Linked DNA regions of Homo sapiens: region 1 is linked to region 2. Evidence: fine-mapped expression QTL. Tissue or cell type: fibroblasts. Region 2 holds a variant in brackets; the other region holds the start of a gene. All regions are shown on one strand. Distances are between the middles of the regions.

Evidence for each region. PIP is the estimated chance that this variant, and not a neighbour inherited with it, causes the effect.
Region 1: it holds the start of PPP2R2C, and the variant in region 2 is fine-mapped to the expression of PPP2R2C in fibroblasts (GTEx, PIP above 0.99).

What each region holds. Positions count from the first base shown.
Region 1 is chr4:6,470,500-6,475,499 of GRCh38, forward strand. It overlaps PPP2R2C (protein phosphatase 2 regulatory subunit Bgamma), which reads right to left and starts at 2,115. Exons shown (of 9, transcript NM_020416.4): 1 at 1,661-2,115. The coding sequence starts at 1,730. RefSeq lists an enhancer at 1-424.
Region 2 is chr4:6,559,058-6,564,057 of GRCh38, forward strand. It overlaps a transcript of PPP2R2C not described here. Among named protein-coding and RNA genes, the nearest start is that of MAN2B2, 14 kb to the right of the region's middle. The variant G/A (reference allele first, on the strand shown) is at 2,159.

The DNA of each region.
Region 1 (5,000 bases), 89 kb before region 2:
TCCCCAACGTAGAGATGAGCAAACAGAGGCTTGCTCCAGGAAGCCAGACCACAGCGAGCCTGGGAGCAGCGGGGCAACCTGCCAAGATCCGCTCTCGGCCCGAGCCAGGCCACCGAGGCACGGGCCAGCAACCCGGCGGCTTCCTCCAACCCTCTGTCGCTGCAGGCTGCGAGCAGAAACCACATCCCGGACCCACGCTGATCCCGACTCAGCCTCGCCGAAGCAGGCGACAAAGGACCGCTCTCAGCTCCCCGGGCCTCCCAAAGCCGCGGCCGGGTCAGAGCCCCACCGGCCCGGAGGCCCGGGCAGCCCTGCCCCTCTCTCGCACACACCCGGCGGCGAAGCGTGCGTGACTCAGCGGTTCTCCCGCCGGGAGCGGGCGCGGCCCCCGCAGCCTCCCTCCGCCCAGGTCCCACGCCCAGCCTCTGCCTCCCGGGCCAGGGCGCCCCGAGCCCGCCCGCGCCCGCGCTCGCGCTGCGCTCCCCGGGCCTCCGCGGGGCTCCGGCTCCGCTCGGCCTCATTTCCGGCAGAGCCAGGCTTCGAGGAGGCGGACCCAGCCGCAGGAGCCCGGTCTCCGCCGCCTGGCCCACTCGGTCTCCCTGACACAGGCACCCACGCGCACCTGCCCCGCGGGACCCGTGCCCAGGGCCCCTCCCACTGGGGCACCCACCCGGGGAATCCGCGCACACTTCTGCGGCCGGGCCGCCAGCCCGTGGGTTAGCGGCTGACAGTCCCCGCACTCGGGCAGGGCTCCAGCACAGGCGGCCCCGAGCCCAGACCTCCCGGTCCCCATCCTCCATCGGGGTCACTCCGCGGGCCCTGCCTGCGCACGGAAGCTGTCCCCACTGTTCCCCTAGCGAGGCAGACCAGGGGGCCCCCGGAAGTTCCAGGCCTGTAAGAGAGGGGCGCTGACCCACCAGCCTCGGGGGTAGGGTGGGGGTGGGGGTTGGGCTTGTAGGGCCAACTTAGGGGATTTTAAACAGGGCCTGTTTGGGATGGCATGTCCCACTTTTTTGGAAAATCCCGACAGTTAGCCCAGCTGCTCCTGTCTCAATATAACTCACCAGGAATAAAAAGGCCAGCCCCAAACCAGCCGCCTTCTCCCTCCCACTCAGGGACCCTGCCTCTGGAGGACAGGGAGGGGCCCGGGCAGGCGGGCCTCCCAGGAGGATCTGGCAATGGATTATGTTTTTTTCCCCCCGGGTCCCTCTTCTTCTCCAGGGAGAGGGCAGCCTAGAAAATTCTGCGGGCTTTGGGCAGGGCTGAAATGGCAAATCCAGGATTTAAACCATTAAATTTCCCCGAGATTTCTTCACCAGATTAGCCACAGCCGTGGCCTTTTAAAAAATTATGGTCAGGGCCGAATCAGGATGCCACCTGGCTTGGGAGAGGAAAGCTGCCTCCCGGAGGGCGGCGCGGAGGAGGGCGCTGCCCTGTGCCGGCGCTGGGCAGCGGAGGCCGGTACCCTCGGGCTCCCTCCCTCCTGGGCCCCGGGCAGGGTGGGATGGGATGGGGTGGGGTGGGGTGGGATGGGGTGGGGTGGGGTGGGGCGGGGGGACACGACACACATCGCGCGGTCCAAACCTTCGGAGGGCATTCGGTGCGACGGCATCCCCACGCCGCGGCCGGCCGGAGGGGTCTCAGACAACACGTACGTTACCTTCAGTCACATAGCTGTGGTCCCGCAGGAAGCTGTGGTTAATTTTCCGCGTGTCCGTGTCCTCGCCCATTGAAGGCCGTGCCCGGTGCTCTGGGCATGCCCCGCCGCCACACACCGATGCAATCCGCAGAGGTCGCGCCGGGCGCGCGGGCCATGCCGCCGCAGCCTAGCAGGGGCGCGGGCCGCCGGGGCCCCGAAGGGAGGGCATCGCGGCAGGGGGACGGGCGGGGGCGGCCGGGGGCGGGCGCCGCGGTCAAGCGAGCGCGCGGTGGGCGGGCGGCGGCCGCGGGTTCGGGCGGGCCGGGGCCCAGGCGCGCATCCCGGCCGGCCCGTGCGCGCTGCGTCCGTGCGCCCGGCGGCGGGGCCTGGTGCCGGTGCGCCTGGCTGCGGCGACGGCGGCGAGGGGACGCGCGCGGCGCTGCGCTGCGCCGACCAAGCCGGGGCCGAGCCGGGCTGCGCGGGCTGGGGCCGCCGCCGCCGCCGCTGTCGCAGGCCCCTCCCTCGCGCCGCCCGCTCTCCGCCCCCGCGGCCCTGCAGGTGGAGCCGGCGCCCAAGCCGAGGCTGCACCGCCGTGCTCGGGCCCTCGCGGTGGGCACCTTGGTGCTGGGTGCGCCACGGGGGAGGGAGGAAGGAGACCGCCAGCTTGCGGGGAGAGGGTGATCAGCTGAGCTTGGGGGGAGGGTACCTTGGGTGCCCAGGTGCTCCAGTTATGGGAGAGAAGGCCAAGAGCCGGGGTGCTGGGAAGGGGGCAGGAGGAGAGCAGCCTCGCAGGCAGAAGGCAGAAAGGACTAGGAAGGAAGGAGTGGGGTCGCAGTTGAAGAGGGCGCACCTGGAGAATGGGGACTCGGGGGAGGGGAAGGACACTGTCTCCCTTCATTAGTAGAAGAGGGTGGGTCGCGCAAGTTCTGGGGCCCGTTGGGAGCATTAAGTACATGTGAAGAAGCTGGTGGAGGGGGTCCAGCAGCCGACAAGGCAAAACTGGATGAAATGGCTGGAGGGGTGATTGGGCCTCCCCCAGGCAGGGCTCTGAGATCTCTCCTCATGCCCACCTCTCCTGACGAGTGAGAAAGTTAAAGAAATACAGAGCTAGGTACCTCCAAAACCAGGCTGGAAAATGCGTCCCCCTCCTCCCTTCCCTCCCTCCCCTCCAAACCCAGGGCTCTGCCAAACAGGAACCTCCCTCTGGTAATCAGCCTGGCACATAGTGGGCCCTCAAAAAATATTTGCCTCCTGTTTTGCCAAGCTGCCACCTCCTCCACCGTGACCCACCGCCTAATGAATCACAGTCCCCTGCACGGGACACAAGCCCCAGTGGGGATTCAGAGGTGTGGGTGAGGAACCATCAGCCCTCCCTAGGAGCTCAACAGAGCCTTCCTGGAAAGCGAGGGACTCTGTGGCTTGCCTGGGAGGGGTAAGTGCAGTGGGGTGACCAGAGCTGCAGGGGCTCTTGGGTCTAAGGCATCAGTGGAGCCATGCTCCAGGTGGGGGCTGGTCTGTAATGGCCTCCACTTGTTTCAAATGGTTCTGGGGGAACTCCAGACAGCTCCCCAAACTGCAGTGGAGGTAGGAGAGTCCAAAGGCGTTGGGGGCAGGGAGACTGGGGCTGTGGGAAAGACGAGGGAAGGTGATGCCGTCTCAGATTTCTTGGAGATTGAGAGGGAGTTTTTGAAGCTACAGCTTTCGTGCCTTTGAAATCCCCAGAATGGACCTATGAGGAGATGAAAGCCCCCCAGCAGCCCCACCAGCACTCTGCAGGCTGTCATGCAAGGGCTGGCCTGGGGAGAGGCCCTGGGGCCCTGCCAGCACCTGCTTTGGCAAGTGCCCTGCCCTGTTCCAGCCTCTACCTTTTCACTGTGGAACAAGCCAAAATCTCCCAGCTGTGCAGACTCCATTCAAGGACCAGGTAAATGCAAGGGCCGGAAGGATGTGCTTGTTCTTTGTCACTTTCTACCCCGTAGGAAAGTGACCGACACCCACATTGGCCCCCACCCACCTGGCATGTTCTCCTCTCTCTCTCTCACCTGTCTGCTCACATGCCCCCCACCTCACATCCTAAGGCCAGCCCCCCACTCTCTGTCCACACCCCCTCACCTCTCTAGCTGGAGCCAGCAAAATGGCTATGCTGGGAGAAAGACAGGCTGGGTTCAAGTCCTGACCACAAGGGGGCCCAGGCACAACCTCATCTGTAAAGTGGATGTGATGGCAGGAGTGGCCCCACTGGGTTGGGGTGGCCAGTCCTGCTCAGCAGGGGTCAGGCCTCCTGGGAGCTCTCTTGTTATCATGCTGAGGCCCACCCTCCCGCATGTTCCTCAGCCTCCCTCTCTGATCATGGAGAAGTCCCCTCTCCCTATCTGTCAATCCTGCCAAAACACCCACCCTATGCTGGCATCAGCCTCATCTCCCGGGATGTCCTGGACTACAATGAAAACAGCCCCACTCTGGCCTGACACAGTACATCATCCCTTTCATCAGCTTCTGAGCCATGCTGGGGACCCTGCAGTGGGTGGTCTTTCCAACCTGACTGGGCCCCAAGGCTTGCATCCATCCCCTCCTCACCCCTCACCACCCCATCCTGCCCCACCCCCACCACAAGCAGTGTCTGGGCTCCTCCACACTGTCTCCTCCATTTCCTGGAAGCCCTCCCCCTCCAGCACAACCGAGGACTCTCCCTCAGCCCCCTGCCCACCCCCCACCTCCACTAAATCACACAATCTGCTGCTTCCTCATCTGTATCTGCACACAGCCCTGCCCCCGCTGACAGAGCCTGAGCTCCAGATCCTGCCACCCCCAGCCTCTCTGTACAGACTCCTCTCTGTACTTTCATTCATTCAATGAGGAATGTTTATTGAGCATCTACTATGTGTAGGCATGTTCCCAGCACTAGGGTAGTGTGGAAGACAGAATAGAGAAATGCTCTGCTCTCGTGGAGCTGGCCTCCCAGTGGGGTGAGATGGACAGCATAAAGTGAGCATGTACTGTGTGGGCCATGACTGGTGCAGAGGAGAAGGCGGGAATGGAGATGGAGATGAACGGGGATGGAGATGGGGATGGAGATGGAGATGAAGGCGGGGATGGAGATGGAGATAGAAAGGAACGGGGAGGAGGAGGTGCCATTTTATAAAGGTGAGTGTAGAGGAAAGCTCAATAAGGTGAAATTTGTCAGCATCTCTCCAGATGCTTCTCACAGCGTAAGCCTGCTTGGGTCTCTTCCACATTCAAAAGCTATCCTCACTCCGTGTCCCTTCAGCCACCAGCACATTGCATTTCTGCCATTCACAACCACAATGCCAAAAGGGTACAGCTACACTCGCCATCTCCTCACTCACTGCCGTGCCCTCCA
Region 2 (5,000 bases):
CTGAGACAGGGGCTCTGATGAGCAGGCAGCCCTGACAATAGCAGTTTCCTGAGAAGGAATCACAGAACAGAACCTAAATTTAAACACTGGGAGAGCAGCTCGCAGTCCAGCCAAGGCAGGAAGAACTAGGTTCAGATCCATCTCTCACTGCTAAGCAGCCTGGAGCACATCACTGGCACCTCAGTGTGCTCCTCTGTAAAACCGGGGGCAGTGGGCACGTCCACACCCTCACAAGTTGACTTGAGGATAAGTGAGATAGAGTGTATAGTGCATAGTGCCCGTGCAGTGCCAGGCTCACAGAAGTGCCCAATAAATGGCAGTTCTGAAAAAATACACAGCACACACACACACACACACACACACACACACACACAGAACAGAGGCAAAGAGATTAAACTTCACCCAGGGCTGCAAATTTGCAACACGCAGCATCTGTGATCACTGTGCCAACTACACTCCCAACACCTTAACCCAATTCTTGCCCCATGCATAACTTCCTCCAAAATCCCCCCTGCTGTGGACTGGATGCTTGTGTCCCCCTGAATTCCTATGTTGAAATCCTAACCCCCAATGTGAGATATGAGGAGCCGGGCCCTGGGGAAACAATTAGAAGGAAATTAGTGCCCTTCTAAAATAGACTCAAGGGAGCTCATTTGCCCCTTCCACCCTGAGAGGGTACTGCAAGAAGGCACCATCCGTGAACCAGAACGCAGGTCCTCACCAGACACTGAATCCGCCACGCCTTGATCTTGGACTTCCAGCCTCCAGAACGGTGAGAAATAAACCTGTGTTGTTCATAAGCTGCCCAGGCTATATGGTGTTTTGTTACGGCAGCCCCAACGGACTAAGACAGCTCCCTTCCTGAACTGTGTTCCATGTGCTAATCAGATTTCAGGCCATTTCATCCATTCACTCCTCAAACATGTGGTGTGTGACCCCAAGGGGCAACTCAAACCCTGGGGATTCCACGTCAAAATTGACATGTCCCTTAAGGTGTTGGGGGAACCACAGGGGAAGCCCACCAAGGAAGAGGCATCCTGGGGCCCTTGAAGGCTATGCAGGCGTTAGCCAGGCAAGGCAGGGGCAGGGGTGCCCCAGGGCAGGGAGCAGCCCCATGCAAGACCCATGCAAGACCCTCCTGGAGGAGGGCAAGCAGGGGACAGTGCACAGCCCCCCAGGCCCAGCCCACCCAGGCTCTTGGCTACCAGACTAAGGGCTGGAACTTCTATGTTCTTCTGGAAGCAACTCCAAGCCAGGGGCGTTTCCATACTGGCAAATGAAAAAAATAAGATTTGCTTTTTTTCTGACAGCAGCAGTGAGCTCCAGGCCCTTGTTGAGAGGTGGTGGGGTAGAGTGACCAAGGACAAGCCTTGGGGGAGGACTGAAAGGCTCTCCGCCACTAACAGCTGTGGGACCTCAGGCAGATCACTTAATCTCTCTGTGCCTCAGTAAAACGGAGCCAACAAGAGCACCCATTTCACCAGGTTGTGGCGGAAGGAAAGCAGCTCATACCTAGGAAGCACTGGAAGCGTCCCTGGATCCTACAAAGCACCTCTCAGTGTTGGCTGCTGTTACTGGAGCTCTGTGCCTATCCACAGCCATGGGGTTGGAGCTGCACCCGCTTCACAAGTGTGTGACCCAGGCAGCCACACAGGCCTCATGCTTGGAAGGGGCTCGTGCTTGGGGTTTAAGGCTCTGCAGAGTCATAAAATTCCTGACAGCTGAATCTTTGAATGTGTGTTTCCTAAGCAATGTCTGATGGAACAGCAGAGCCTGTGCTGTGAGCATGGAGCGTGTGCTCCTGCCTCCTGCCACCTCCCCAACCTGGGTTCTCAGCTGACTGCTCCCCTGGCCTCTGGCACCCTGGACCCCACCCTTCCTCCTCTTTGTGCCTTGTCTCAGTGTCACTGCTGCCCTCCTCCCCTGGCAGGGGTCTGGGTCTAGGAGTGTATGCACCCCAGTGCATCCTGGGGTGGATCATGGCGGTGACCGCCCTTCCCTGGGCTGGCAGTGCCACTGTGTGTTCGGTGGGCAGTTCAGCAGGAACATCAGGTACCAACTGTCTCAACCCCAAGGCTGCAATGCCCTGTGGGGTACCTGTCTGCCATGGATTGGGGCATCGACCTGTGGACCTGTGGGAAGGGGAAATGCCTGACTC[G/A]ACACTCAACTTCCCTGTCCCTGGCCAGAAGACAGGCGTCTTGCAAGAGTCTGCACTCACCCTGCAAGCATCCCCATGCCCAAAGGAACACGATGTTACACAGGAAATAAAACCACCATGACAGGCGGAGAGAGAGTGCAGGAGAAAGTGAGCACTTTTAACCACACTTTCCCCTACTTTTTGAACACAGGGCCCTGCATTTTCATTTTGCACTGAGCCCCACAAATTATGTAGCTGGTCCTGGGTCGGAAGGAGGTGGGGGGAGGGGGAGGGGAGGACTTGCACCTTTTACTCCAACTATTTCCATATTGTTTCATGTTTTTCCAAGATGCTGGTGATCATGCATTCATTTTGCAATTTTTTTATTCCAAAAAGAGCTTAATGGCTACACACACGGAGAGAGACACAAACACACACACAGACACACCTATACAGACATAGAGCTACACAGACACACTTGGATACACACACAGATACACAGACACACCCACAGATACATACATGGATACATACACACACTGGCGTTTAGAACCCAGGGACTGACTCCCAGCCCAAAGATCTTCCGTGACCCATTGCCAGCCGCAAGCAGGCTCTAGGGAGTCCTAAGAGAGCTGAAGAAGGTTCTACATCGAGCCTGCCTACCCCTTTTCTGAAAAGCAGAGAAAGGCCATGTGGCATTCACTCACTCACGCACTCACTAATCGACAGTCAACAATTCCACACTGAGAAGCTGCGATTTGCCAAGCACAGTCAGTGTCCTGCAGACATGACCGGATATAGTCCCTGCCCTCAAGGGGTGAGGGTATTCCCAGGGGTGAGGACACCTGGGACAGAGAAGGCATCCCAGGTGGGCGGAAACCCTCACTCCACAGCAGGGAGGTAGGAAACAGACACATTCAGGGGCCTGGAGGGAGCTGAGCATGAGCAGGCGACCAGGGCGTGGTCAGAGTGCGGGGGACAATGAGACTGAGGAGGCAGCTGCAGCAGATTGTGGGGCACTGACAGCTGACAGAGGAGCTCACCTGTGGGCAACGGGCCCCACTCCCTGCCACAGCCCGTCCCCTCCATGTTGCTGACAGTGTCCCTGTGATGTCTTCCCGTGACAGTGTGAGCACATGCCAAAGAGGACTCGCCACAGCCTCTGGAGCTCTCCCACTGGCAGCTGTGTGGCCTCGGGCAAGTTACTTAACTTCTCTGCACCTCAGTTTCCTTATCCTATAATGGGGATAATGTGGGGAGGATTCAACGGAGTCGGGGGGGGGGGTTGGATATTTGAAAGCTCTTGGAACAGTGTGTTTGTTATATAAAGTGACAGAGACCAGCACCCTACCCCGGTCCACCAGCCCTCTGTACCTTCCATCACCCACCTCACTGGGCCCCTGAAGGGAGGAGGGAAGAAAGCAAAAACAGATTCCTGGGCCCTCACCAGTACCCCCCATAGGCCTCTTCTTTTATCTCTGCCACAACCTTGCCCGCTAAGCAACGTCATCCCCATTTCACAGAAGAGAAACTGAGGCCCTGAGAGAGTAAGCCACTTGCTGAAGGCCACCCGGCCGGTCAGGGCGAAGCTAGGATTCAATCCAGGCGGGGCAGCGTCTCGGGCCACAGAGTGTGTGGTCCCTGTCCCTGGGACCCTCCGCATAAAAGCCAACCCGGGTCACTTCCCAGGGTGCGAGAGCAGCTGTCCATCCCACCAACGCTCTTCGGGCTCTGGGCGCGCCACTGTCATGGACTGTCCCTGCCAGCCAAAAAAAAAAAAAAAAGGCTTCTCCAAACCAGAGCAGCAGCCGGGCCTGACTCAGCACCCACCGGCGCGGGCAGCGGGAGGAGCGCGTAGACGCTGCTGGATGGTACCCGCGGCCGGGACTGAACTCCGCCGCATTGGGTCTTACCCCGGACTCCGAGCCGGACCCCGCGCCCGCACCTTCAGCCGGGCAGCGAGGGGGGGCTCGAGCGCGCCGGTTCTCGGCCGAGACGCTGTGGCTGACACCGGTGGAGCGATCTGCCCTGGCTCGCGCGGCGAGCAAGTGCTGGAGGCAGGGTTCCAAGCCGGTTCTGTCGGGTTCCCTCAAGACCCCGAGAGCACGCGCTCCGGAGGGACCCCGGCACTTCGGACCCTAGCAGAGCCAGCCCTGCCCCAGGACCGCCCCGGGGTCGGTGCCCGGGCTCTCTGAGTCTCGCTTCTGGCCCGCGAAGACGCGCCCTCTCCTCCAGTCGCGGGAGTCCCGCACCCGAGGGCCGCGTCCCCGGGCAGGGTGAGGTCCTGCGGGGCTGGGGGTGAGGCGGGGTGGGCGCGAGGCGGCTCCGGAGCGGCGGGGCCGGGCGCCCTGCAGCCCGCGCTTACCTTCGGAAACTTCGAGGTCGGCGGCCCCATTGAGCTGGCACAGGCACCAGGAGCCCTGGTCGGCGGCGGGCGCGGCGGGCGCGGCGGGGGCGCGGTCAGCTGGCAAAACAGCAAGGGCGCGTGAGCGCGGGCCCGGGGCGGGGGGCGGGGGGCGGGGGCGCGCGGCGAGGCTAACCCGGCTGCTGGGCCATGGGCGGCTCCGCAGGCTGCGACCGCGACGGGCGTCCTCCGGGCGGCTGCGGGGGGCCGGGCGCGGCGGCCGCTCCTCCTCCGCCTCCTCCGGGCTCGGCTCCCTGCGCGGGCGGGCGGGCGGGGAGGCGCGCCCAGAAGGCTCCGCCCGGAGCGCGGGTGCGGGGCGCGGGGTGCGGCTGCGGGCGCCGAGGGTGGGCGCGGGGCGACGATCGCGAGGCGCGGATCGCAGGGCGCGGATCGCGGGGCGCGGGGCCGGGCACCGGGTAAGAGGCGCGGGGTGCGGGCGCGGGGCGGGGTGTGGGTGCG